Regions from separate parts of the Homo sapiens genome. Here regions 2 and 3 are each linked to region 1. The links come from fine-mapping of genetic effects on plasma protein levels. A gene starts in region 1. Each other region holds a variant in brackets. All regions are shown on one strand. Distances are from middle to middle. Region 1 holds the start of CLMP (CXADR like cell adhesion molecule). Region 2 overlaps CLMP (CXADR like cell adhesion molecule). Region 3 overlaps CLMP (CXADR like cell adhesion molecule).

Evidence for each region. PIP is the chance, under the fine-mapping model, that this variant and not a neighbour inherited with it causes the effect. Protein levels are from antibody-based Olink assays in UK Biobank. Linkage for the fine-mapping came from a reference panel and not from the study's own genotypes, which makes the PIPs less certain.
Region 2: its variant is fine-mapped to the plasma level of the CLMP protein (UK Biobank, PIP above 0.99). The variant lies in the coding sequence of CLMP. If it changes the protein, the assay may bind it differently, which can mimic a change of level.
Region 3: its variant is fine-mapped to the plasma level of the CLMP protein (UK Biobank, PIP above 0.99).

The regions. Positions count from the first base shown.
Region 1 is chr11:123,190,302-123,198,479 of GRCh38, forward strand. It overlaps CLMP (CXADR like cell adhesion molecule), which reads right to left and starts at 4,947. Exons shown (of 7, transcript NM_024769.5): 1 at 4,612-4,947. The coding sequence starts at 4,639.
Region 2 is chr11:123,091,176-123,099,353 of GRCh38, forward strand. It overlaps CLMP (CXADR like cell adhesion molecule), which reads right to left. Exons shown (of 7, transcript NM_024769.5): 2 at 6,620-6,777. Among named protein-coding and RNA genes, the nearest start is that of HSPA8, 33 kb to the left of the region's middle. The variant C/T (reference allele first, on the strand shown) is at 6,643.
Region 3 is chr11:123,100,227-123,108,404 of GRCh38, forward strand. All of the region lies in intron 1 of CLMP (CXADR like cell adhesion molecule), which reads right to left. Among named protein-coding and RNA genes, the nearest start is that of HSPA8, 42 kb to the left of the region's middle. The variant A/T (reference allele first, on the strand shown) is at 1,662.

The DNA.
Region 1 (8,178 bases):
TGTGCTACCAATTGCCATGAGTGAACAGTGCCTGAAAAAATCAATAAGCAGGGTAACACCCATCTGTTCCTGATGACAACCACATCTGGACCAGCCAGAAAATTCTCAGAATTAAAAAAAATTCAGAGAATGTTACTGGTATAAGGAAACTTAGAGATAACCTTAATCTCATATTTTCATTTTACAAAGGAGAAAACTAAGGCTCAGAGTGGTATGATTTTCCTAGGCTCACCCAGAAGAAATGATTAAGGAGCTAAAGCTATTGATTTCCAGTCCTGTTCCTTGTACACATACACCCACATCTTTGGGACTTTGAGTATTAATTCCTTTCTCCTGAATACACCAGACATACATGACACTGCAGAGTTCCTAGGACTTCCAGTTACGTTGGCAAAATTGAAATGTTATGACGCCTGCCTGATTTTTCAGGCAATTTCTCATATAATAAAAACCAATGCCAATTATTCAGCATTTAGCTCACTTAACTGAAGCATCACAAGAGCAGCTGTGATCTTGAAGCTTAAGTACATGAGCTGAAAAGGAAGGAGAGACATTTTTCTATTTCAAAAATGTGTAATAGGATCATGGAATTCGGGTTCCAGTCTTGGCCCTTCTACTGAGCTAGCTGTATAACCTTAGCCAAACCTCTCTGAACTTTGGTTTCTTCTTCATCTTAAAAGAAGGCATAGATTTAGATGAAAGATTAACTTGGGTTCCAAGGAAAAGTATCAGGAGGTCTCAATGAGGTCTTAAATATTATTGGCAAATTTGATGTATACATGTCTTTTTCTAAGAAGTTGGTTTTGTGATTTTCATCAGATTCTACAAAGGGTCTGGGACTCAAAATTTTAAGAACGATTGATTTAAACAGTCTCTTAGTTTTCCTCCAGTTCTGGCAATCTTTGACTCTACCTTTAAAAAATATCCATCATCACTAGATGCATTCATGAAATAATACTCATGTGTACCCTGCCCAGATAAGCACAAGACAAAAATAGGATATGACTAGATATAAGCCTACAGGGAATATATCGTTATTATGACCATCACCATTAAAGTGGGAAGATAAGGGTAGGACATGGAATCCTACTGAGACCTGTCGTTATCTTACAGACCAATGGACTATGCATTCATGCCTTCTTCAAACTCACTTTCTGCGAAACCAGGCTCCTTCCCCGTGCTGGCAGAAGTTTCAACAGGTAAGTCTATTTTTAATCTGGTACTAGCACACACGATATACAAAATAAATTTGTATGACAAATATATTATCTGGTCCCTATCCCTGTAATGTTCTTTGTGAATTTTTTAAAAATAGGACTGGTCCTATTTGCATTAATAGACAAGGAAGCTCAAAGCAAGCTGAATTAAAACTGGGCTCCTCACTATTGGGTTATCCCGCAGTCAAAGGTTAGTGATCTTCCAAATTTTTCACCTCTCTTGACCTTAAAGATTTCAAATACTTCAAAAATCCAATTATCTCTTAACAAATAGTTCACAAGTGTTTATGCAAGGTACTGAACATGGTTCACAGGTGAATGAGACACTGTCCCTGCCTTCATGGAGCTTCCATTCTAATGGGGTGTTAGATAAGCATTTGGAACACCATAATACAAAGTAGCATAAGAGGAAGGCTATTGGGATTCAAAGGTCAAATAGACTACTCAAAAGAAAAAAAGTATATTCAGCTGGTGAAACCATGGACAGGTGTATGGAGGAAGTGGCATTTGAGGTGAGACTTGGGGAATGAACATGATTTTGATCTGCAGTGGCAGGAAATAAGGAGGCAGTTTTGGTGGGGGGATTATCATAAACAAAAGCATAGAATTAGAAAGAAGCATGGGACATGTTTTGGGCGCATGAAGTAATTCAGGTTCCCTACCGAGTATCTGGGGGTGAGTAGAGGAAGAGCTGTGAATGACATTATGTAAAGTCTTTGATGTCAGAATGAAGTGTTTATACTCAACACTAAAAGCAATGAGACTACTAAAGGTTTTTGGAAGAAGGGAGAAAAACCATAGAATTATAGAAATTTTGAATTGAACATTCCCCTACCCCTATGCCCATTGTACAGACAAGGGAGTCAGAATAAGAACCAGAGAGGTTGCCAGACTCTTAAGTTCCAGCTTCGTGCATTCTACCAGCGGCCTCACAGGGTTACTCGGGTAGCAGTGTGCAGGATGGAGGAGAGAGGACAGGCAGGACAGGAACGTGGCAGCTACTATAGTCATCCAGGAGAGAAGTTAAGGTGGCACAATGAGGGCCGGAACGTTACGGGAGTGAGGCAGGATAGTGGGTCAGAAGAGGGGCTGAGCTGGAGCTCCTTCTCTCTTCTCCATGGGGCTCAGAGCACTTCTTATTCATTCACATCAGAGAGGTGGGTTATTTGACCTCACTCATTGGCAGGTCCAGGAAACATGGAGTCAACTGTCCCACAGTTCAGACGATGAACACTCTCCACCCTCCCAGCCCCTGTTTGATACTGTGCAATCTTTAGAAAAAGAGAAGCCAAAAACCATGCCAGCCAGGATCAGAAGCAGCCCTGGAACTGCCCCTTTAAAGGACCAGTATGATGATTTCAGGATTCAGACAACTTGCTGTGTTTTCTTTCTGCCTTTGCTGAACAGTGTCCGAGCATTCCATGGCTCCAAACCATTTCTTAAATAAGGACAGGTGCTCAAAAAGTGCAAATTTTTTTTCCCTTTCCCAGACCTCTCTCCTATAGGTCACGCTGACATCTTACATTCCATGAAGAGGATGGTGAGATCGAAGAGCCAGCCAGGTGTGGCAGAGGGTAAGCGCTTTGAGAATCTCTGCAGCCACAGGAGGCTGTAAAGCAATGCGCTTTAGCAAGCTTTCTCTGGAAGCAGGCAGCCTGCGCTCAAATTCCGTCTCCCCTAATTATGAGTGTGTGGCCTTGAGCAAGTTACCTGGCCTTTTTACAGCTTGGTTTCTTCATCTGTAAAATGAGGGTAGCCAACAAGGATGGCTGGGCAGCCAATAGGCTTGTTGTGAAGAACAAACGAATTACCAAGATAGTACATATAAAGTGTTCATATAACAAGGACTATTAGCTGTTTTTAATAAGAGAGCCCTGAAGTTTCATTCTACTAAATATCTGGTGATTGGTAACCTAGTGGTAGAGTCCAGTAAAGGGAATCAAGGTGCCATCCAGCTGCGCCAGATGTGCACAGGAACAGTATTGCAGTATTTGGTTAAGTCTAAAAGAGTTTAGAAAATAACCCCTCCCCACCTGCCTTACTTGAGCAATAGTTTGGCTTAGCCCACCTCTTTCATTTCTCTAACTTAAGTGATTATCAGCCTGAGGCTGGCCAAGATGGGTATGCATACAGTATAATTGGTTTGTAAAGTTTCAAAAAAGACAGAGAACTCTAACCACGTATTTCAGGATTTGGTGGTTCTTCTAGACACCAGCCTCCTTCAAACCTCTGGTGTTGTAGGCTAGAAGGGACTTAGGAACCATCTAGTATTCTCTTTCCAGAGCTAAAGACGTGGAAGCCCTGGATAAGGAGTAAGTTGTCTGAGGCCACCCAGCTAGTCAGTTCAAAACCAGGACCAGCTCTCCCGTGGCCTGGTGTTCAGGGTAGTGCTCACTCTTGACCACTGGCTGGCTCTTTGATTTTCTGATCTCCAGCTAACTGTGGGGCCTGTCTGCAGTGGATCCCATGCTTCAGGGTGCATAGTGACGTGCCCTTGGCTCTCCCTGACTGCCTTTCCTGCCCTGGCTCCTCAGACATTTCCAGTCACTCCGGTGGGCTCCTACCACCCACATCCCTGATGTCCTCTCCTGCAAACCTGCCTCTGCCTCAGGGCCTCTGAGGCCCCAAGAGTCCTGCCTGGGGGACCCCAGGAAGGGACGCTCAGGAGGACTCTTCCCTTTGCTCTGGAGCCTGTTTCAGGAAAAAGTGGTGCTTGCTCTATTTCCCTCTGTTCTGGTTCCTCTGCTGCGTTTTTTCCAAGTCTTCTTCACTCTCTGTGCTCGGACTCCCCCAGCCTTGCTCTTCTGTTTTACATTCCTGTTCTCCTCTTTTTCTCTCTCCTTCCCAACCCTTCCCCTTTCCCCTTTTCCTTCCTTCCCTGTGTGACTTGGGGCATTTGCATCTTCCTGGTGCTCCTTGGGCCCTGCCCTTTTTCCCTCTCCCCTTTCCTCTCCAACCCTGCCTATCCCCCACTCTGCTCACCCTTTAACACATCTGTTTCTAATCTGAGCCTCGGAGGCGCCTGTTTGAAACAACAACAAAAAACCCCCACCCTCAGGAACCTGGCACAAAAATTCCTGGATAAACCTTCCCTCCACCAATTCTCCACTTTTCCCAGATACACCAGAAACTAAACACCGCCCTAAAGAGGACCCTGCACATCAAACGGTTCCCCAAGCCTGTTCAAGGGCCCAGATGTGCGAGACAATCTCGATGGCCGACTGGGCGGCCCTCGGTTGCCAGATGTGCTCCTCCGTGGCCAGGAGGCAGGGACTGAAAAGCCGGCTGACTCCAGGGGCTGCAGGGACACCCGGTCAGAACCGGCGTCTTTCCCGGACGCAGGGCTGCGTTTGCCCACGGCCATCCAAACTCCCGCCCTCCCAGAGGCACTCACCTAGCAAGAGGAGAAGGAGGAGGGACATCCCGATCCCCGGACGCGGGCGCTTCCCCGCTCAGCTGCTGCTTGGCTCCGGGGCGGCCGGGCGCCTCCGACGGACCTCGGGCGAGCTGGGCGCGGCGCCTCGGGGTGCGCGCGAGGTGGCTGCAGCCATGTGCCGGGCGGGAGCCGGCCCCGCGCCCCGTGCCCCTGGGGGCAGATGGGCTCCCGGCGCTCGCCCCACCAGCTGGCGCCCGGACGGGAGCCGGGACCAGGGTCAGGGAGGAAAACGCGAGGCGAAAAGGCGCTACCGCTTCGTGGAACACTTTTCCCTGTTTGGAAAGAAAAAGGAGTGAAGAAAGAGAGAGGGAAAAAAAAAATTCAGCTGGAACCACATGGTTGCCTCCTACCGCAGCCCCTCCCTCTCTCTCTCGCTGTTCCCTCCTTCCCTCCCTCCCTCCCGCGCGGCGTTTGGGGTTTGCGGTGGGGGCCGGTCGGGGAGAAGCGTGAGCTGGCCGGGCAGGGAGGGCCGGGGGAGACCTGGGGCCGTGCAGAGGCGGGTGGGTTGAGAGGCGCCGGGCGTAGGATTGATTCTTTGCAGGAGGCATTGGTGACACCTCGGCTGAGAGCCCATGGACGAGGCCTTGTCCGTTCCTAGAGCTCTGCTCTCACTTGGTCCTTCTCTCCACTTCTCTCTCGCTTCTTTTTTACTCTCGTTTCTCTCTGCTTCCACGTCTCTCACAAATCTGGCGTTTCTCTCTTCCATCTCTTCCTCTCTAGGTCTCCTTGTTCGCATTCTTGCCTCTCCCTCCTCGTCTCCTCATGCCCTCTCCCCTCTGTCCTCTGCGCTCTTCTCGCCTCTCCTCTCCCTCCCCGTCTGGTTCTGTTAGTGTAAAGCCACCAGACTGACCAGGCCGACGGCGGGGCGCGGAAGTGGGTGCGAAGGCAGCCAGCGGCCGGCCGACCAGGGCTCTCCCCACCGACTGCCTGCTTTGGCACCCGGCTACCCCCCTTGGCCTGGCTTTCCTGGGGCCTTTCGCGTTCGCTCGCTTTCTACTGTCGGTATTTGCAGCAGCGCTCCCTCAGGTCCCGAGCAGAGCTAAGCCAGCCAGCACCCAGGGGAAGGGGACCCACAGCCCCGTGGAAAGAGGTCTATCGAGATGCTTTGCAGCAAAGTGCTCTGCACGTGGCCCTGGCCAAAATGTGCACCACCCCCTTTCAGAAAGAACATAAGGCAGAGGGAGCAGAATCCCCCTGGTGCCAGGGCCTGCGCGCCCGGGCTCCGGGAACCCGGCCCAGGAGGCTCGCGGAGGGCAGGAGGCTGGCGGCCGGACGGGGGCGGACGGTGGGTTCCGCGGAGCCGAGCAGCCCCGCCCCAGGGTCGGCCCCTGGGAGTCTGCCCTTCACTACCCTGCTGCTCAGCGGCAGCGGGAGGCAGCGAGACTAAGAAAGGGCAGTGAGGGTGGCGCTCAGACCTCAGCTGCCTGGACCTCCTGCCCTGACCTTGTGCCCAGGGCCTCTCAGAAACTCTGGTCCCAGTCTCTGAATGTCCCTGGAGGGCTTCTCCCTCAGCTGCCCAGAGGCATGATGACGCAATCGCTCACCTTCGGCCTCGCCAGAGCCCAGGTTGGAAGCCGGGGCCAGCGCTCTTGAGAAGAAAGATGAACCCCGCCGGGGCCGGTGGGCTGCCGAGTCACACATTTGCAATGAAATGCAAATGTGTAATGAAAACCCGTCCCATTTCGCAGACTAGGAAAGCAAAGGCCTGGAGAGGTTATGGAAGTTTCACAAGGTCACTCAGAGGACTTGCAAAAGCTGGGGCTGTTCCTAGGGCTCGCGGATCAGCTGGAGCATTGCTTTAGAATTGCAGCATTTCTCCACTCACTCCCTCACCCCTTCGATACCGATGTGTTAGCATCCACACTATGCCAGGTGCTTTTTTAGGTGTGAGGACACAAAGTGAGTAGAACTTGGAAGTTGACATTTAAAAAAACCTGGGAGGAGTATGTCATGAACACCAAGTATGGACCCAGAATCATATTATATTATTACGTGGTTTTTATTGGGTCATATTATTGACCTTTTTATATCATTCTTATTATACTGCTAAGGGATAGTCACTGAAAAAAAAATCACCATCCCTTAGCATGAATAGGAAGACAAGGAAACTATAACTTAGAGAGGCCTAAATATCTTGCCCCAGATCACAATAGAATTAAAATGCTTCTATTCCAATATTAATATTCTAATATTTAAAAATATTATTTTTTATATTGAGAAGTGTTTAAAAGGTCTCTTTGACTCCGAAGTAACTTTATTTTCCATTTCATACTAATTGTCTAATAGGGGAAATAGATACATTCACAACTATAATTTGTAAATGAATATGTTGAAAAAACCGTCTTTTTTCTTTTCTTTTTTTTTTTTTGAGACAGAGCCTCACTCTGTCACCCAGGTTCACTGCAACCTCTGCCTCCTGGGTGCAAGTGATCCTCCCACCTCATCCTTCCAAGTAGCTGAGACTACAGGCTCACACCATCATGCCCGGCTAATATTTGTATTTTTGGTAGAGATTGGGTTTCGCTGTATTGCCCAGGCTGGTCTCAAACTCCTGGGCTCAAGCAGTTCACCTGACTCGAACTCCCAAAATGCTGGGATTACGGGCATGAGCCACCATCCCCAGCCAAAAACAGTAATTCTTAAAGGCTGGAGAAGGTGGCAGAAAAACTACATACAGAAGGTAACTCTTTTGTTGTTTCTGCTTTATAATTAAAAAAAAAATTGACATTTTGGGCTTACAAAAAAGTTGAAAATAGTACAAAAATTCTTCACCCAGATTCCCCCTTTTTATTTCTCTCTAGAGGTGGGGTTTTTGCACAAGTTTTAAAGCCTCACCTCCACCCCACCGCTGCTGGTGGCCTTTCTCAAGAACTTAGTAATGCCAGTGCTGTTTATTGCTTGAGGGCTGGTGTGCGCATGAAGACAGATGTGTGTGGGTGTAGGCAGATATGTGTTTAAACCCAGTTGCTCAAGCCGAAGGTAACAGGCGCCTTTGGCTCTAGGTCATTAGTCACCAGCACAGGAAATGATTAGACTGAGATTGGGTCACAAGCACTCAATTTTCCCAGCCCCAAGTCTTGTAGCCAATATGGCACATATTTTTTGGAAGAGGATCTTTGGGTCCCTGAAGGTGTCTGTCTCTAAATCTGAAACCTCTTTTCTATTGGCATGGGTCTCTGGGCAGGAAGAGCAGAGAGAGAGTGCTTCTGCGATGGTTTGTAACTCACATCCCATCCCTACCAGTGCTGGGCCCCACTCTGGGCTGGGTGCCTCGGAGGATCCCAAGATTACGAGATAGTCCTTACCCTGAATGGACGGACCTCTCAGTTCAGAGGGAGAAAAAACACCAACATGGGAAATGTTTCAACAACAATACAAGAAAGTTAGATAGTTAAATGCCACAGTAAATTATCCTGACAATAAAAAACAGTGGGAATTCCAAGAAAGGAAAGAGCACCTTAGGCTGGGGTAATTGCGGAGGAGAGCAATGATGGAACCAGCCCTTGGGGGATGAACAGAATGTCA
Region 2 (8,178 bases), 99 kb before region 1:
CTCACTGCAACCTTTGCCTCCTGCGTTCAAGCGATTCTCCTGCCTCAGCCTCCCGTGTAGCTGGGACCACAGGCGCATGCCACCACGTCCAGCTAATTTTTGTAGTTTTAGTAGAGATGGGGTTTCACCAGTTTGGCCAAGCTGGTCTCAAACCCCTGACCTTAAGCGACCTGCCCACCTCAGTCTCCCAAAGTGCTGGGATTACAGGCATGAGCCACCGTGCCCATCCGGAGTGATTATTCCTATCTTATCTCATGTACAGCTTGGTCTGAAGAGCTGCTTAGACTTTCCAATAAATCTATTCAAACAACTGCCTCTGTTACCTTGACTGTCTCAGATTTCGACAACCCAAGACAGGTCCTGGCACTAGGAATGTGAGACTGTCTCCGTTATTTTGACTTGCTCCAGGATAGGGAGAAGCCTATGCACGTCTCCTACTGACCATATGTTTATATTTCTAGCTTTGATGTCTGGGCACCGATTTCCCTAGGTTTAATTATTTGCTCAGTGTTAAGGCAGTGCTGTGGAAATTTGTCTGTGTAACTGGAGTGCTGTGCAGGCCTGTCTGTGTGACTGTCATGCAGGCCCATCTGTGTGATTGTTAGGGAGAAACAGCCTGCTACAATTCCACACGTTTGTGTAGCAAAGCTCACCTGGCTGAAAATCTGTTTCCCATCACCTGTGCACACTGATGAAGGCTTGGCTTCTGAAGGTTACACCTATGCCAGCGCAGTCTGGACCATGCCTCATTTTTGACTCCTGCCCTCACATCTCTGAATCTCGTTGTCCCCAAACCTGATGTTTCTTGATTCTGAATAGTGTCTTCTGATAGATCTCGGCTTTGATTACACAGTTTTTTCTTTCTGAAATGCCTTTTCCTCTTCTATTTTTGCCTCAACAACACCTATATAAGGCCTCAAGATCAAGCTCAAGGACCACTTTCTGTATATAGCCTTTCTCGACTCCCCAGTTAGAATGGTGACTCCCTGCTTCAACCTGTGGTGTTTGGGGCATACTGCTACCATAGTGCACAGTACGTTCAGGTAGGTCTGACTCCATCTGCTTTTCCTCGCTTTCCCTAAAATCTTGTCTCCACACACACACACACACACACAAAGACACACACTTTTTTTTCTTTTTGAGACGGAGCCTAGCTCTGTCGCCCAGGTTGGAGTGCAGTGGCACAATCTTGGCCCACTGCAACCTCCACCTCCCGGGTTCAAGCGATTCTTCTGCCTCAGCCTCTCGAGTAGCTGGGACTACAGGCACACACCACCACGCCCGGCTAATTTTTGTATTTTTAGTAGAGACTGGGTGTCACCATATTGGCCAGGTTGGTCTTGAACTCTTGACCTTGTGATCCACCCGCCTTGGCCTCCCAAAGTGCTGGGATTACAGGCGTGAGCCACTGTGCCTGGCCACATTTTTCTTTTCTTTTTTGAGACAGAGACTCTCTCTTTTGCCCAGGCTGGAGTACAGTGATGCAATCTCAGCTCCCTGCAACCTTCGCCTCCTGGGTTCAAGTGATTCTTCTGCCTCAGCCTCCCAAGTAGCTGGAACTACATGTGTGTGCCACCATGCCCGGCTAATTTTTTTGTATTTTTAGTAGAGATGGGGTTTCACCATATTGGTCAAGCTGCCCTTGAGCTCCTGACCTCGTGATCTGCCCACCTCGGCCTCCCAAAGTGCTGAGATTACAGGTGTGAGCCACTGTGCCTGGCCTGACACACACTTTTTTTTTTTTTTTTTTGAGATGTTGTCTCATGCTGTCGCCCAGGCTGGAGTGCAGCGGTATGATCTCTGCTCACTGCAACCTCCTCATCCCAGGTTCAAGCGATTCTCCTGCCTCAGCCTCCTGAGTAACTGGGACTACAGGCACCCGCCATCACTCCTGGCTAATTTTTGTATTTTTAGTAGAGACGGGGTTTCACCATGTTGGTCAGGTTGGTCTCAAACTCCTGACCTTGTGATCCACTGGCCTCAGCCTCCCAAAGTGCTGGAATTACAGGTGTGAACCACCACGCCCGGCCATCACACACCTACTTTTAAGAGACAGGTCTCACTGTGTTGCCCAGGCCAAGACTGTCTCAATATTTAATGAAGAAAAAAGGGATAACATGCAGGCAAGCATCTGACATCTTTGGAAAGGTGAAATTATACAATTGCAAGATACTATTTTTTGCGGGGTGGGGATGGAGTCTCACTCTGTCACCCAGACTGGAGTGCAGTGGTGCGATCTCGGCTCACTGTGACCTCCGCCTCACAGGTTCAAGCAATTCTCCTGCCTCAGTCTCCCAAGTAGCTGGGATTACAGGTGCCTACCACCATGCCTGGCTAATTTTTTGTGTTTTTAGTCGAGAGAGGGTTTCACCATGTTGGGCAGGCTGGTTTCAAACTCTTGACCTCAAATGATCTGCCCACCCAAAGTGCTAGTATTATACTTTGGGCCTCCCAAAGTGCTAGGATTACAGGTGTGAGCCACTGTGCCCAGCCTATTTTGTTTTTTATCCTAAGAAGTGTAGTGTTGAGACTAAGCAGTTCATCAGGGTGTGATGGGAGAAAAATGAACATCAATTTAGTCCTTTTGCAAACAAATAAAAAAATTAAAAATATGAATTTCAGTGGTTTGGGGCTGTTTGTCATTCCTGGTGGACCTGGAACAATTTGTTAGGACTTATATAGAACAGATGGAGCAGCTCAACTTTCTGGCAGTCATTCTGCTGTGCCATCGCCTGCAGAGCAGTCGTAAAACTGCTCTGAATGGAGATGGATGCAGATCTCTCTTGATGTTTTAGATCAGGATTTTTCCGCCATTTGGTGTTTTCTCAGAGAAGCAGCCTACATAGCACATATTACACTTTCACATTATTTATGAAGGTAATACAGCTAGTGGTTCTCAGACCAGGCACTGAGGTCAGGGTGCCTAATTTGTTTTTTGTTCATTTGTGTTGTTTTGAAATGGTCTCCTGTCACCCAGGCTGGAGTGCAGTGGCGCCATCTCTGCTCACTGCAGCCTCGACTTCCCATGCTCAGCCATTCTCCCACCTTAGCCTCATAAGTGGCTGAGATTATAGGCCTGCGCCACCATGCCCAGCTAATTTTTGTAATTTTAGTAGAGGTGGGGTTTCACCATGTTGCCCAGGCTGGTCTTGAACTCCTGAGCTCAAGTGGACCTCCTGCCTGGGCCTCCCAAACTGCTGGGATTACAGGCATGAGCCACTGTGCCCGCCCGGCCCAGCCCAGGGTGCCTAATTTGAAAATGCAAATTAGGTGACCTTAGGCAATTTGTTCACTATGTTTGTGTGTTTACACACATGTGGGCATACCTCAGCTCCTTATTTGTAAAATGGGCCCATTAATCCTAGTTATCAGTATTACATTAACAAATTTTAAAAATTGTTTTAGAAATGGGAGTTCTCACTCTGTTGCTCAGGCCATCTGGAACTCCTGGCCTCAAGTAGTCCTCCCACCTCAACCTCCCGAGTAGCTGGGACTACAGGCACAAGCTACTGCAACTGGCACATATTAAATAACATGAGATAATACGTGCTAAACAGATTTGCACCTGGCATATTTATTGGTTTCTTTGTTCCTACCTTTCTAACTACCCCTTCCCCTCCTTTCTTAAAAGAAAAATTATTTAAGAGATAGAATCTCACTGTGTCACCCAGGCTGGTCTCAAACTCCTGGGTTCAAGCAATCTACCCACCTCAGCCTCCTGAGTAGCTGAGATTGCAGACACTAGCCACTGTGCCAGGCTCTTTGTAAAAAATTATTAAATGTCTTCTCACTATAACCTCTAAGAAGGCAAGGACTATGATGTCTTCTTCACTATTGTATCCTGGTACCTAGCATGGCATACAGTAAGTGCTAAATAAGTTTGTGTAATCTGAATGATTGAATAAATGGACATCCTTGCTTCACAGTATCAACTGAAGACAAGCAGGGAATTGTGACTGCTTAAAGCCATATCAAGGGCTTTTTGAAATCAATAATTAACATCCTAATCCTTATATTCACTTGGCTATATAACCAAGCAAGTCTTTTTTTCTTTAATTCAAATGAAAATACTTGGGTGAAAGTTAGATGTGTGAAATTGCTAATGAGAAAATTATCCAGTGAAACTTTTTTTTTTTTGAGACAGTCTTGCTCTGTTGCCCAGGCTGGAGTGCAATGGCTCGATCTCAGCTCCAAGCTATTCTCCTGCCTTGGCCTCCTGAGTAGCTGGGATTACGGGCAGATGCCACCAGGCTTGGCTTATTTTTTGTATTTTTAGTAGAGACAGAGTTTCACCATGTTGCCCAGCCTGATCTTGAACTCCTAACCTCAGGTTATCCACCCACCTTGGCCTCCCAAAGTGCTGGGATTACAGGTGTGAGCCACCGCACCTGGCCAAAACTTGTTAAAGATAGTAAAACAGACTATTCAAGAGGCGCCATGGTAATAGGTATGAAGACCTGTGAGTCAGAGATTGGGCTTGACTCTGATTCCAGCAAGTACAAGGGGAGTTTACAACCAAGGAGCAGGGTGAGGGTCATGAAATTACTAAGAGGGAACATCAGAGATGAGGGGGTTTCTGATTGAACCTGCTTGATAGGATTATTATTGTAGGCAGGATAGGGTAATAAGATACCAAGAGTGGAGCATTTTCACTAACCTGACTTAGCAGCATTCTTGCTCAAAATGTATTCTACGAGGGCAGAGAGGGAAGTCCAAGATTAGCTCTAGTCAGAAAGACCGCAAGAACCTGCCTCAAGTGTGATCAAAGAAGAGAATCTATCAGAGTCATTCTTGGATTTTTATTACAGGAACATGGGCTGTAATAAACATGAACATCACTTCATTCAGAACTGAGAGTATCAAATCTAGGCTGACCAAGAAGCTGTTAAAATAAACATACTCAGAGGTCTGGCACAGTGGCTCACGCCTGTAATCCCAGCACTTTGGGAGGCCGAGGCAGGCCGAACACCTGAGGTCAGGAGTTCGAGACCAGCATGGCGACACTCAATCTCTACTAAAAAAACAAAAATTAGCTGGGCGTGGTGGTGGATGCCTGTAATCCCAGCTACTCAGGAGTTGGAGGCATGAGAATCGCTTGAACCCAGGAGGCGGAGGTGGCAGTGAGCTGAGATGGCACCACAGCACTCCAGCCTGGGCGACAGAGTGAGACTTCATCTCAAACAACAACAACAACAAAAATCAGCCAGGCGTGGTGGTGCACGTCTGTAATCCCAGCTGCTCAAGAGGCTGAAGCGGGAGAATCGCTTGAACCCTGTGAGTGGAGGTTGCAGTGAGCTAAGATTGAGCCATTGCACTCCAGCCTGGACAACAAAGTGAGACTCTGTCCCAAAATAAAAAAATAAATAAATCAATAAACCTACTCAGGTTAAAGTGACCTCGCTCTACAGAGAACAGATAGTATCTTAGGATGTTGCTGTATGAGAACAAAATGACAAGCAATATCAATATAATGAGGTGATGTAGACAGCTATTTAAGCAAGTTACACTATAATAGTGATCCTGAAATCTGTTTTCAGTGAAAACCTTAGCTCTTCCCAACATAAACCATGTTATAAAATTAGTGGTGTAGACAGAGAAGAGGAAAGGACAACTTTTTTCTTTCTTTTGCTTTTGTTTTGTTTTTGTTTTTTTAGAAACAGTGTCTGGGTCTGTTGCCCAGGCTGGAGTACAGTGGTGTGATCTCAGCTCACTGCAGCCTTGACCTCCTGGGCTCAAGCGATCCTTCTGCACTCAGGCGATCCTCCTGCACTCAAGCGATCCTCCTGCTTCAGCCTCGTGAGAAGCTGGGACTATGGGCATGTGGCATCACATCTGGCTAATTAAAAAAATTTTTTTGGTACAGAGGGAGTCTCACTTTGTTGCCCAGGCTGGTCTTGAACTCCTGGGCTCAAGCAGTTCACCCCCCTCAGGCTCCCAAAGTGTTGGGATTGCAGGTGTGAGTCACTGCACCCGGCCTGACAACTTCTTATTTATTTAGAGACAGGGTCTTGCTGTATTGCCCAGGCTCAAGTGCAGTGGCTATTTACAGGTGTGATCATAGCTCACTGCAGCCTGGCACTCCTGGGCTCAAGTGATCCTCCCACCTCAGCCTCCCAAGTGGCTGACACTACAGATATGTGCCACCACATCTGGCTAATTTTTCTTTCTTTCTTTTTTTTTGAGATGGAGTCTTGCTGTGTCACCCAGGCTGGAGTGCAGTGGCATGATCTCAGCTCACTGCAACCTCCACCTCTGGGGTTTAAGCAATTCTCCTGCCTCAGCCTCCCAAGTAGCTAGGTTTACAGGCATAGGCCACCACACCCGGCTATTATTAGTAGAGACAAGGTTTCACCATGTTGGCCAGGCTGGTCTCGAACTCCTGACCTCAGGTGATCCACCCACCTTGGCCTCCCAAAATGCTGAGATTATAGGTGTGAGCCACCACACCCAGCAATACTCTTTCTTCTCTATAGTTTTGTATCTAAAGTCTTTCAAGTAGAAGCCAGATGAAAAAGGAACTCCAGCTCTTTCAGAGCCAGAAAGAAAGACTGGAAGACTGAAGAAAGGCAAATGCAGGAGGACAAGAAGGAGGAGGGACTCCAGCCAGGTGTCTACTTACCACTTTTTGGTTCCCTTCATTAT[C/T]GGTGAGCAGCCATTCAATATCCAGAGTGTCTTTTTCTGGAAGCCCCAGTTGATGGTGGCAGGGCAAAGTGACCTTTTCCTCTGCCACTCTCTTGATCTCAGTGTGAGTCCCCAAGGTTCCAACATAGTAGGAAACTGGAAGAGGAAAATCTTTAATGAGTAATGCAGAGACTGGATGGCAATGTGTGGGGAGCAAATATGACAACAAAGAATTATGGGATGTTCCCGTGGGCAAGTGCATGTGGAGGGGTTGCAAGAGTCCTAGACCAGGTGTACTAGAAGTCCTGGTCTCACACTGGCTCCTCCGTTAACTGAATTCATCACATCTTCTTTAACCACCCCAAATTACATCCTACTAGTGCCTGTCTTTCTTACCTTACTTGGTCTTTATGAACAATGAAATTGCTCATGTTAACTTTTTTTTTTTGAGATGGAGTTTTGCTCTTGTCGCCCAGGCTGGAGTGCAATGGCATGATCTCGGCTCACTGCAACCTCTGCCTCCTGAGTTCAAGTGATTCTCCTGCCTTAGCCTCGTGAGTAGCTGGAACTACAGGCGCATGCCACCACACCCAGCTAATTTTTGTATTTTTAGTAGAGACAGGGTTTCACCATGTTGGCCAGGCTGGTCTCGAACTCCTAACTTCAGGTGATCCACCCGCCTTGGTCTCCCAAAGTGCTGGTATTATAAGCATGAGCCACTGTGCCCGGCCTGTTTGTTTGTTTGTTTGTTTTTAGAGAGATTGAGTGTCTCTCTGATGACCAGGCTGGAGTTCAGTGGTGCAATCATGGCTCATTGCACCCTCGACCTCACCAATTCAAGAGATCCTCCCACCTCAGGCTCCAGAGAAGCTAAGACTATAGGCACATGCCACCATCCTGGCTAATTTTTTTTTTTTTTTTTTTTTTTGAGATAGAGTCTCGCTCTGTCACCCAGGCTGGAGTGCAGTGGTGCGATCTCGGCTCACTGCAACCTCCGTCCCCCAGGTTCAAGCGATTCTCGTGCCTCAGCCTCCCAAGTAGCTGGGATTACAGGCACGCTGTAATTTTTGTACTTTTTAGTAGAGACGGGGTTTCACCATCTTGGCCAGGCTAGTCTTGAACTCTTGACCTCACCATCCACCCTCCTCAGCCTCCCAAAGTGCTGGGATTGCAGGCGTGAGCCACCGCGTCCGGCCGTGCTGGCTAATTTTTTGTAGAGACAGGGTCTTGCTCTGTTATTATGCCAGGTCCCAGGTTACTTCTGGGCTGAAGCGATTCTCCAACCTTGGCCTCACAAAGTGCTAGAATTGCAGGCATGAGCCACCGTGCCTGGAAACAACTGTGTTTTTGATCTTTCTGTCTTCTATTAGCAGAGGCTTCCAAGAAGATGATACTCATGGAAACTGCACTAAGTTGCCCAGAAACTCATGTTCTTAAGTTATAGAGTCATAGTCATTTGAAGCTGGAGAAAACCTTAGAGATGAACCTTCTTACTTTCTTTAAGTCTAGTAACAGTTGTTGCTGACCAGTAGCATGTATTTAGAAGGATGAAAAGAC
Region 3 (8,178 bases), 90 kb before region 1:
AACATTTAGCTGGGCCTGTGTGTGGGTGCCTGTAATCCCAGCTACTCCAGAGGCTGAGGCTGGAGAATCGCTTGAACCCAGGAGGCAGAGGTTGCAGTGAGCCGAGATCGCACCATTGCACTCCAGCCTGGGTGACAGAGCGAGACTCCCTCTCAGAAAAAAAAAAAAAAACCAAAGATTGTTTTCAAGCTTGCATGACTGGTAGGATGGTGATCGCAGTAGCAGTGATGGGGAAGCCAGGAGTACGATGTGTTTTATTTGGGGGTGAGCTGGGGAGGGTAGGCACTGAGTTTAGATTCAAGTCCATTGTGATGCAGGCATCTGTCCAACAGGCATCCCTGTGTTCTTTCCCCAGGCGGCGCCTCCCTTTCCACTGCTGATGCTCACACAGCTCTGCAAATAGTGTCCACCCTCAGTTGTTGTGTTAGAGGAAGTCACAGCCCTGCTTTGCTTTATTTCTTTATTTTTCATTTCTCTTGTGCCTCTAAATGAAGCTCTTGGAAACACTTCTGTTCCATCCATTGTGCCTGGGCTAAACTGTCTCAGGTCCCTTAATTTCTCTGCTTTTTCCCAAAAACACTTTTTTTTTCCTCCCACTGAGACAGGAAGTCAGGGCTTGGCATCCTCCCCAAAACAGGCTTCAATACCAGGTCACGGGCTGGGTTCCAGGTTGCTCCTTAGAGCCTTCCTAGAGACAGGTTACTACCCTCCTCCCCCACCGCCTGCCCCCGACCTCTCTGTGAGTGCAGAAATACCTTGGGGAACAAGTGGGCTCTTACAAGGAGTTCCTGCCTCCCTTAGAGACACCTATTCTTGTATCCCCCCAAGTTCTATCTTCCATTCTCTGTAGTTTCCTGTCAGATGGTTTCAAAATATGAAACAGCCTTTTTCTTTTCTTTTGAGATGGAGTCTCGCTCTGTCACCCAGGCTGGAGTGCAGTGGCGCGATCTCAGCTCACTGCGACCTCTGCCTCCTGGGTTCAAGGCATTCTCCTGTCTCAGTCTCTGGAGTAGCTGGGATTATAGGCGTGTGCCACACCGGCTGATTTTTCTGTATTTTTAATAGAGACGGGGCTTCACCATGTTAGCCAGGCTGGTCTCAAACTTCTGACCTCAGGTGATCCGCCTGCCTCGGCCTCCCAAAGTGCTGGGATTACAGGCATGAGCCACCAAACCCGGCCTCCCTGTTTATTTTCTAATTCTCTAATTCCCTGTTTATTTACCAAAATTGATTAGCAGCCAATCTGTGGGAAGGAAAATGGCTTCCGGTATTCTTGCTTTCAGGGAAATGAGATGAAGAAGAATGGAGCAGGGGAGATTGTGCTTCATTCTGCAGCAAGGCTGCTTGGGCTGAGACTGCTGGGGAGGAGCCCTCAGAGGCATCTGAAACGGCCTTGGCAAGTGTTATATCAGTGGGAAAATTATAACAGTAAGCTAAACTAACCCTCCCTGGATCTTCCCTTTCCCTTAATTATTCCTGGGCTATTGGGCCAAGCTAACTTTGGAAGACATTTAGGTTACAGTTTAAATGATAACAGGCCTTGCCCAAAACTCAACCGCTTTTGCAAAGCTAATGGGAGGCCATCAGGCTGGGAAGGAGAGACTAAATCCTGGTAAGGCACAGGCATAAGCCATTGTCAGCCATTACTCCAAGGTTATAAG[A/T]TATGCAACTTCCAGGCCGGGTGCGGTGGCTCATGCCTGTAATCCCAGCACTTTGGGAGGCCAGAGTGGGTGGACTGCTTGAGTCCAGGAGTTTTGAGACCAGCCTGGGCAACATGGCCAAACCCTATCTCCACTAAAAATGCAAAAATTAGCCAGGCATGGCGGCCCAGCCTGTAGTCCCAGCTACTTGGGGGGCTGAGGTGGGAGGATCACCTGAGCTTGGAAAGTCGAGGCTGTTGTGAGCCATGATTGCACCACTGCACTCCAGCATGGGTGACAGAGTAAGACCCTGTCTCTAAAAAAAAAAAATAAGATATGCAACTTCCCTAGTTATTCCTGCAAATAACACTATTGTAGAACCTAAGATTGGCCCTTTGAGCTATCTTTCCAGGTTTTTTTTTTTTTTTTTTTTGAGATGGAGTGTCTCTCTGTCGCCAGGCTGGAGTGCAGTGGCACAATCTTGGCTCAGTGCAACCTCCGACTCCCCGGTTCAAGTGATTCTCCTGCCTCAGCCTCCTGAGTAGCTGGGACTACAGGCATGTGCCACCACACCCAGCTAATTTTTGTATTTTTAGTAGAGACAGGGTTTCACCACGTTGGCCAAGATGGTCTCAATCTCCTGACCTCGTGATCCGCCCACCTCGGCCTCCCAAAGTGATGGGATTACAGGTGACAGCCACCGTGCCCAGCCAGGTTTTTTTTTTTTTTGAGATAGTCTTGCTCTGTCACCCAGGCTGGAGTGCAGTGGCTCGATCTCCTCTCACTGCAACCTCCGCCTCCCAGGTTCCAGTGATTCTCCTGCCTCAGCCTCCCGAGTAGCTTTTTTTTTTTTTTTTTTTTTGTATTTTTAGTAGAGACAGGATTTCACCATGTTGGTCAGGCTGGTCTCGAACTCTTGGCCTCAAGTGATCCACCCGCCTCAGCCTCCCAAAGTGCTGGAATTACAGGTGTGAGCTACCACGCCCAGCCTCCTCCTGCCCAATTTTATGTGGCTTCCAGGATGTCTGGTTCTCCCATTATCCTGTAAGCTCTTTGACATCAAGTACCATTCATTGCTGCCTTCTCATAGTACTCAGCCCAGGGTCTCACACTGCAGGTGTTCAATTAATATTTGTTGAATTTATCTGAGTGTAACCCACACGCTCATTTTTACCAATGAGCAAACTAAGACCCAGGGGTAAAAGAGACAGCCCAAGGTCCTACAACTCATTTAGCGGCAGAAATAACCCATATAATAACCCATCCTCCCAGAATTACTATAAAGCAGCTTTAGAATAGCTGGGAAATTCACTGGTTTGCACTGTACTAAGCTAAGCTTTGTTAAGAAGGAGCTTTGTAAGAAGGAGCTCTGGCTTAACCCTGATCACTTTCCACCGGACACAAAAATGCTCAAATGAAACCAGTGCCCTACATTCCAGGCAGAGCTAGAGAACCCAGCACCAATTTAGTGCATACAATAGATACTTAAACATTCAATAACAAATGCCAAGAGCCAGCTATGAAAGTTGCCAATTTAAGCCACTAGAGGGAATCAAAGGCTCAGATTCGTCTGATGTCCCCAAAAAACTGGAACATTGTGGCGGGTGGTGTGCTTTGACAGTCAGCCAAGTCCTATTTATACCATATCCAGAATTAAATACAGCAGTGCAGGGAGGAGCCCCTCTGTGAATACAAATGGCTTCATCAAGGCAGGGAGCCATGAGATCAGGGCGCATACACTTCTAGTCTTCCTTGAACTTCAGTTCGTTAGACTCCAGGAGGCCACTGAGATTTCTACAGATTTCTAAGGTCCTTCTCCTTCTGTCCCTTTTTTTTTCTTTCTTTCTTTCTTTTTTTTTACATTAAAGCTTTTACATTTTTTTACATTGCTCAAAGGGTCTTCTGTACTTTTTTTTCTTTTCTTTTTTAAACCCACCTAAGCAGAGAGGGGCCTGGGTTCTGTCTCTTTTTTTTTTTTTTTGAGACAGAGTGTCACTCTGTTGCCCAGGCTAGAGTGCAGTCGCGCAATCTCGGCTCACTGCAACCTCTGCCTCCCAGGTTAAAGTGATTGTTGTGCCTCAGCCTCCTGAGTAGCGGGGATTACAGGCATGCACCACCATGCCTGGCTAATTTTTGTATTTTTAGTAGAGACGGGATTTCACTGCGTTGGCCAAGCTGGTTTCAAACTCCTGACCTCAGGTGATCAGCCCGCCTCGGCCTCCCAAAGTGCTGGGATTACAGGCCTGAGCCACCATGCCTGGCTTTTTTTTTTTTTTTTTTTTTTTTTAATCCAGATTCTCCCTCTGTAGCCCAGGCTGGAGTGCAGTGCTGTGATCTCGGGTTCATGAGTAACTGGGATTACAGGGTTGCACCACCCACCGAGCTATTTTTTTTAGTAGAGATGGGGTTTCTCCATGTTGACCAGGCTGGTCTCAAACTCCTGGCCTCAAGTGATCTGCCCGCCTCAGCCTCCCAAAGTCTAGGATTACAGGCATGAGCCACCGCGCCCGGTCCTGGGTTCTATTTTTTTTTTCCCCAGACGGAGTCTCGCCCTGTTGCTCAGGCTGGAATGCAATGGCGTCATCTCAGCTCGCTGTAACCTCCGCCTCCCAGGTTCAAACGATTCTCCTGCCTCAGCCTTTCAAGTAGCTGGGATTACAGGCAGGCGCCACCATGCTCAGCTAATTTTTTGTATCTTTAGTAGAGACGGGGTTTCACCATGTTGGCCAGGCTCGTCTCGAATTCCTGACCCCTTATGATCCACCCGCCTCAGCCTCCCAAAGTGCTGGGATTACAGGTGTGAGCCACCGCGTCCGGCCTCTGTCTTTAACTCCAAGGCTTAGCAGTGCTCATGGGGGCTGCTGAGCTTGTCTGCCATCTGATGGGTGAGAGGAAAGGGGCAGTCTGACCATCCTGTGGCTAGCCTTGGATTGCGTGGGCACTGGAAGATTCATCTTTGTTAGGAAAGACTTTAGAGATCATCAGTTTAACTTATGAGGAGATTGCACCCCAGAGAATTGAGATGTCACGTCACAAAACTAATTAGTGGCAGAATTGCAAGTAAGGGAATAGTCTCTGCTAGGATTCTGTTGCAGCATTTACCTATGGGAAGAGGTGCTGAGTGGTGGCAGTGGTAAGGACTGCCTCCTTAGGCACAGGCAGAATGCCTTCAGGGAAGCCGCAAGCTCTCCCTAAGTGGGAGCTTTTGCATGCACCTCAGGCACTTATCAAAGGACCTCTGGGAGCTTGAGAAAATTACCTTCTGAGCCTTAGTGTTTCCATCCGCAAAATGGGAATTAAAGAAGACACTGAGGAAAGCAGCTAGCATTGTGAAAGCACATAGGAGTCTCCCATTAAAATGTTAGTTCTCTTCCCCTGCTCATCTCTGCTAGAAGGGACTTTTTCTCACATGACTGCTGCCTACACTCAATTAAGAGTAGTTTAAAGTTTTATCCTCTAAAAGGTATTTACATTTATTTCCTTCCCTTCCCTCCCTCCCTCCCTCCCTCCCTCCCTCCCTTCCTTCCTTCCTTCCTTCCTCTCTCTCTCTTTCTTTCTTCTTTTCTTTCTTTCTTTTTTTTTGAGATGGAGTCTTGCTCTGTCGCCCAGGCTGGAGTGCAGTGGCACAATCTTGGCTCACCACAACCTCCGCCTCCTGGGTTCAAGCGATTCTCCTGCCTCAGCCACGTGAATAGCTGGGATTACAGGCATGCGCCACCACACCTGGTTAATTTTGTATTTTTAGTAGAGACAGGGTTTTGCCACGTTTGTCAGGTTTGTCTCAAACTCCTGACCTCAGGTGATCTGCCTATCTTGGACTCCCAAAGTGCTGGGATTATAGGTGTGAGCCACTGTGCCAAGCCGTATTTACATTTTCTCATAGATTCTCCTGAACCTTAAGACCCCCTTCAAAGAGATGGGCAGGAGGAACTGTGGTTTTTGTTTGTTTGTTTTTTGTTTTTTTTTTTTTGAGACAATCTTGCTCTGTCACCCAGGCTGGAGTACAGTAGCGCAATCTCAGCTCACTGCAACCTCCGCCTCCCGGGTTCCAGCGATTCTTGTGCCTCAGCCTCCCGAGTAGCTGGGATTACAGGCCCACGCCACCACGCCTGGCTAATTTTTGTATTTTTAGTAGAGACGGGGTTTCACCATGTTGGCCAGGCTGGTCTCGAACTCCTGACCTCAGTGATCCACCCACCTCAGACTTCTGAAGTGCTGGAATTACAGCTGTGAGCCACCATGCCCTGCTATTATGAGATTTTATTGTGATTTTATTCTATTTTTTTTTTTAGCTCATCAGCTGTTGTTAGTGTATTTTATGTGTGGCCCAAGATAATTCTTCTTCTTCCAGTGTGGCTCAGGGAAGCAAAAAGATTGGACACTCTTGAACAGTTTATTAAATTTGTATGCCTTTTCTCCTATTAATCTGCCTCTTGTCAGTGCTTTTCAATGAACCTTCAGCGGGCAGACGGGAAGTTTTCCCTTCACCCCAGCTACATATATAATTCTGTAGGAGGTGTGTGTGTGTGTGTGTGTGTGTGTGTGTGTGTGTGTGTGTGCGCGCGCGCGCGCGCACGTGCCTGCCTTCCAGATTGTTTATGGAACACTGTATGCAGTTCAAGACACAGCATGATGCAATAGAAAGAGGATGAGCTTTGGAGTCTGAGAGGTCTGGACTTGAGTAGTGGCTGTAAGACCAATTAATTCCCTGATTGCTCCAAGTTGTTTACTTTTCCGTAAAAGGAAAATAAAAACATCAACTTTGGAAGTTATTGTAAGCATTACATATGATGCATGAAAGTGTCTAGCACTGGCGCATGGTATGTAGCACACACTCAGCAAATGGCAACTACTATTAATAATTGTACTTGTGGCTGGGTGCAGTGGCTCACGCCTGTAATCCCAGCACGTTGGGAGGTCGAGGTGGGCGGATCACGAGGTCAGGAGATCGAGACCATCCTGGCTAACACAGTGAAACCCCGTCTCTACTAAAAATACAAAAAATTAGCCCGGCGAGGTGGTGGGCGCCTGTAGTCCCAGCTACTCGGGAGGCTGAGGCAGGAGAATGGTGTGAACCCGGGAGGCGGAGCTTGCAGTGAGCCGGATTGAGCCACTGCACTCCAGCCTGGGCGACAGAGCGAGACTCCGTCTCAAAAAAAAAAAAAAATAATAATAATAATAATTGTACTTGCTGCATTTTTTTTTTTTGAGACAGGGTCTCAGATGCTCTTTCTGCCAGGCTGGAGTGCAGTGGCACAATCATAACTCACTGCAGCCTGAACTCCCTGGGCTCAAGTGATCCTCCCACCTCAGCCTCCCAAGTAGCTGGGACTATAGGCTTTCACCACCATGCCTGGCTAATGAAATTTTTTTTTTTTAATTTAGACGGAGTCTCACTCTGTCACCCAGGCTGGAGTGCAGTGGCGTGATCTCAGCTCACCGAAACCTCGGCCTCCTGGGTTCAAGCGATTCTCCTGCCTCAGCCTTGTGAATAGCTGGGATTATAGGCGCATGCCACCACATCTGGCAAATTTTCGTATTTTTAGTAGAGATGGGCTTTCACCGTGTTGGCCAGGCTGGTCTCAAAGTCCTGACCTCAGGTGATCCTCCCACTTCAGCCTCCCAAAGTGCTGGGATTACAGGTGCGAGCCACCGCACCTGACCTAAATTTTTTTTTTTTTTTTTTTCAGAAACAGGGTTTCACTATGTTGCCCAGGCTGGCCTCAGGCTCCTGAGCTCAAGCAGTCCTCCCGCCTCGGCCTCTGAAAGTGCTGGGATCACAGGCATGGGCCACCACCGTGTTGCATTTTGAAAGACAGGGAAAACCAGAAAACATACCACATGGACAAACCAGGATTGTGAAAAGTTTGGAAGTCATTTTGCTTCATCACTGTTAGCATTTGGCTATATTTGCTCGCTTTTGTGTGCTCTCTCCTATTTTTTTTTTGTTGTACCAGTTGAAATCAAGTTGTGGATGGCATGACACTAAGTCTAAATGTTGCAGTGCACATCTCCTAAAAATAAGCATGTTATTCCTCACAACAACAGCCATCTTAGCACACCTAAGAAAATTGATAATATTGTAGAGAAGGTCATTCCTGACGAGCAATTAAGGAAGACTGCAGTGAGTAAGGATGGAGGTAGTTCTGGAGAGACAGGCATGTTTTTACCACACAGAGGGAGGGAAAAGAATTCTAGACGGAGGGAGCACCTGGAAGCTAATGGCACCACCTGTCCTCTCCGATCAGCTCCCCCTAGCCTCCCTTGTCACGAACTAGTGAAGTTCCTCTGCCATTTGCTTTCCCAATCCCACACCCAGCCCAACCCCAGAACCTCTCCAGTCCACTCCTTTTATGAGAGTCTTCAGAAGAAGAAGACCATATTTACTATGAGCTGCTAAATCCCTGACATTTTACTGTCTTTTTAAATACAAACATATATTTGGTACTTAAACAGTTTAAAGCCTAAAGCCAAAGGAATGAAGCTTGCAAGTTATCAGTGGAATTTCAGACATCTGGGAGTCAATACAGTGCCTAGT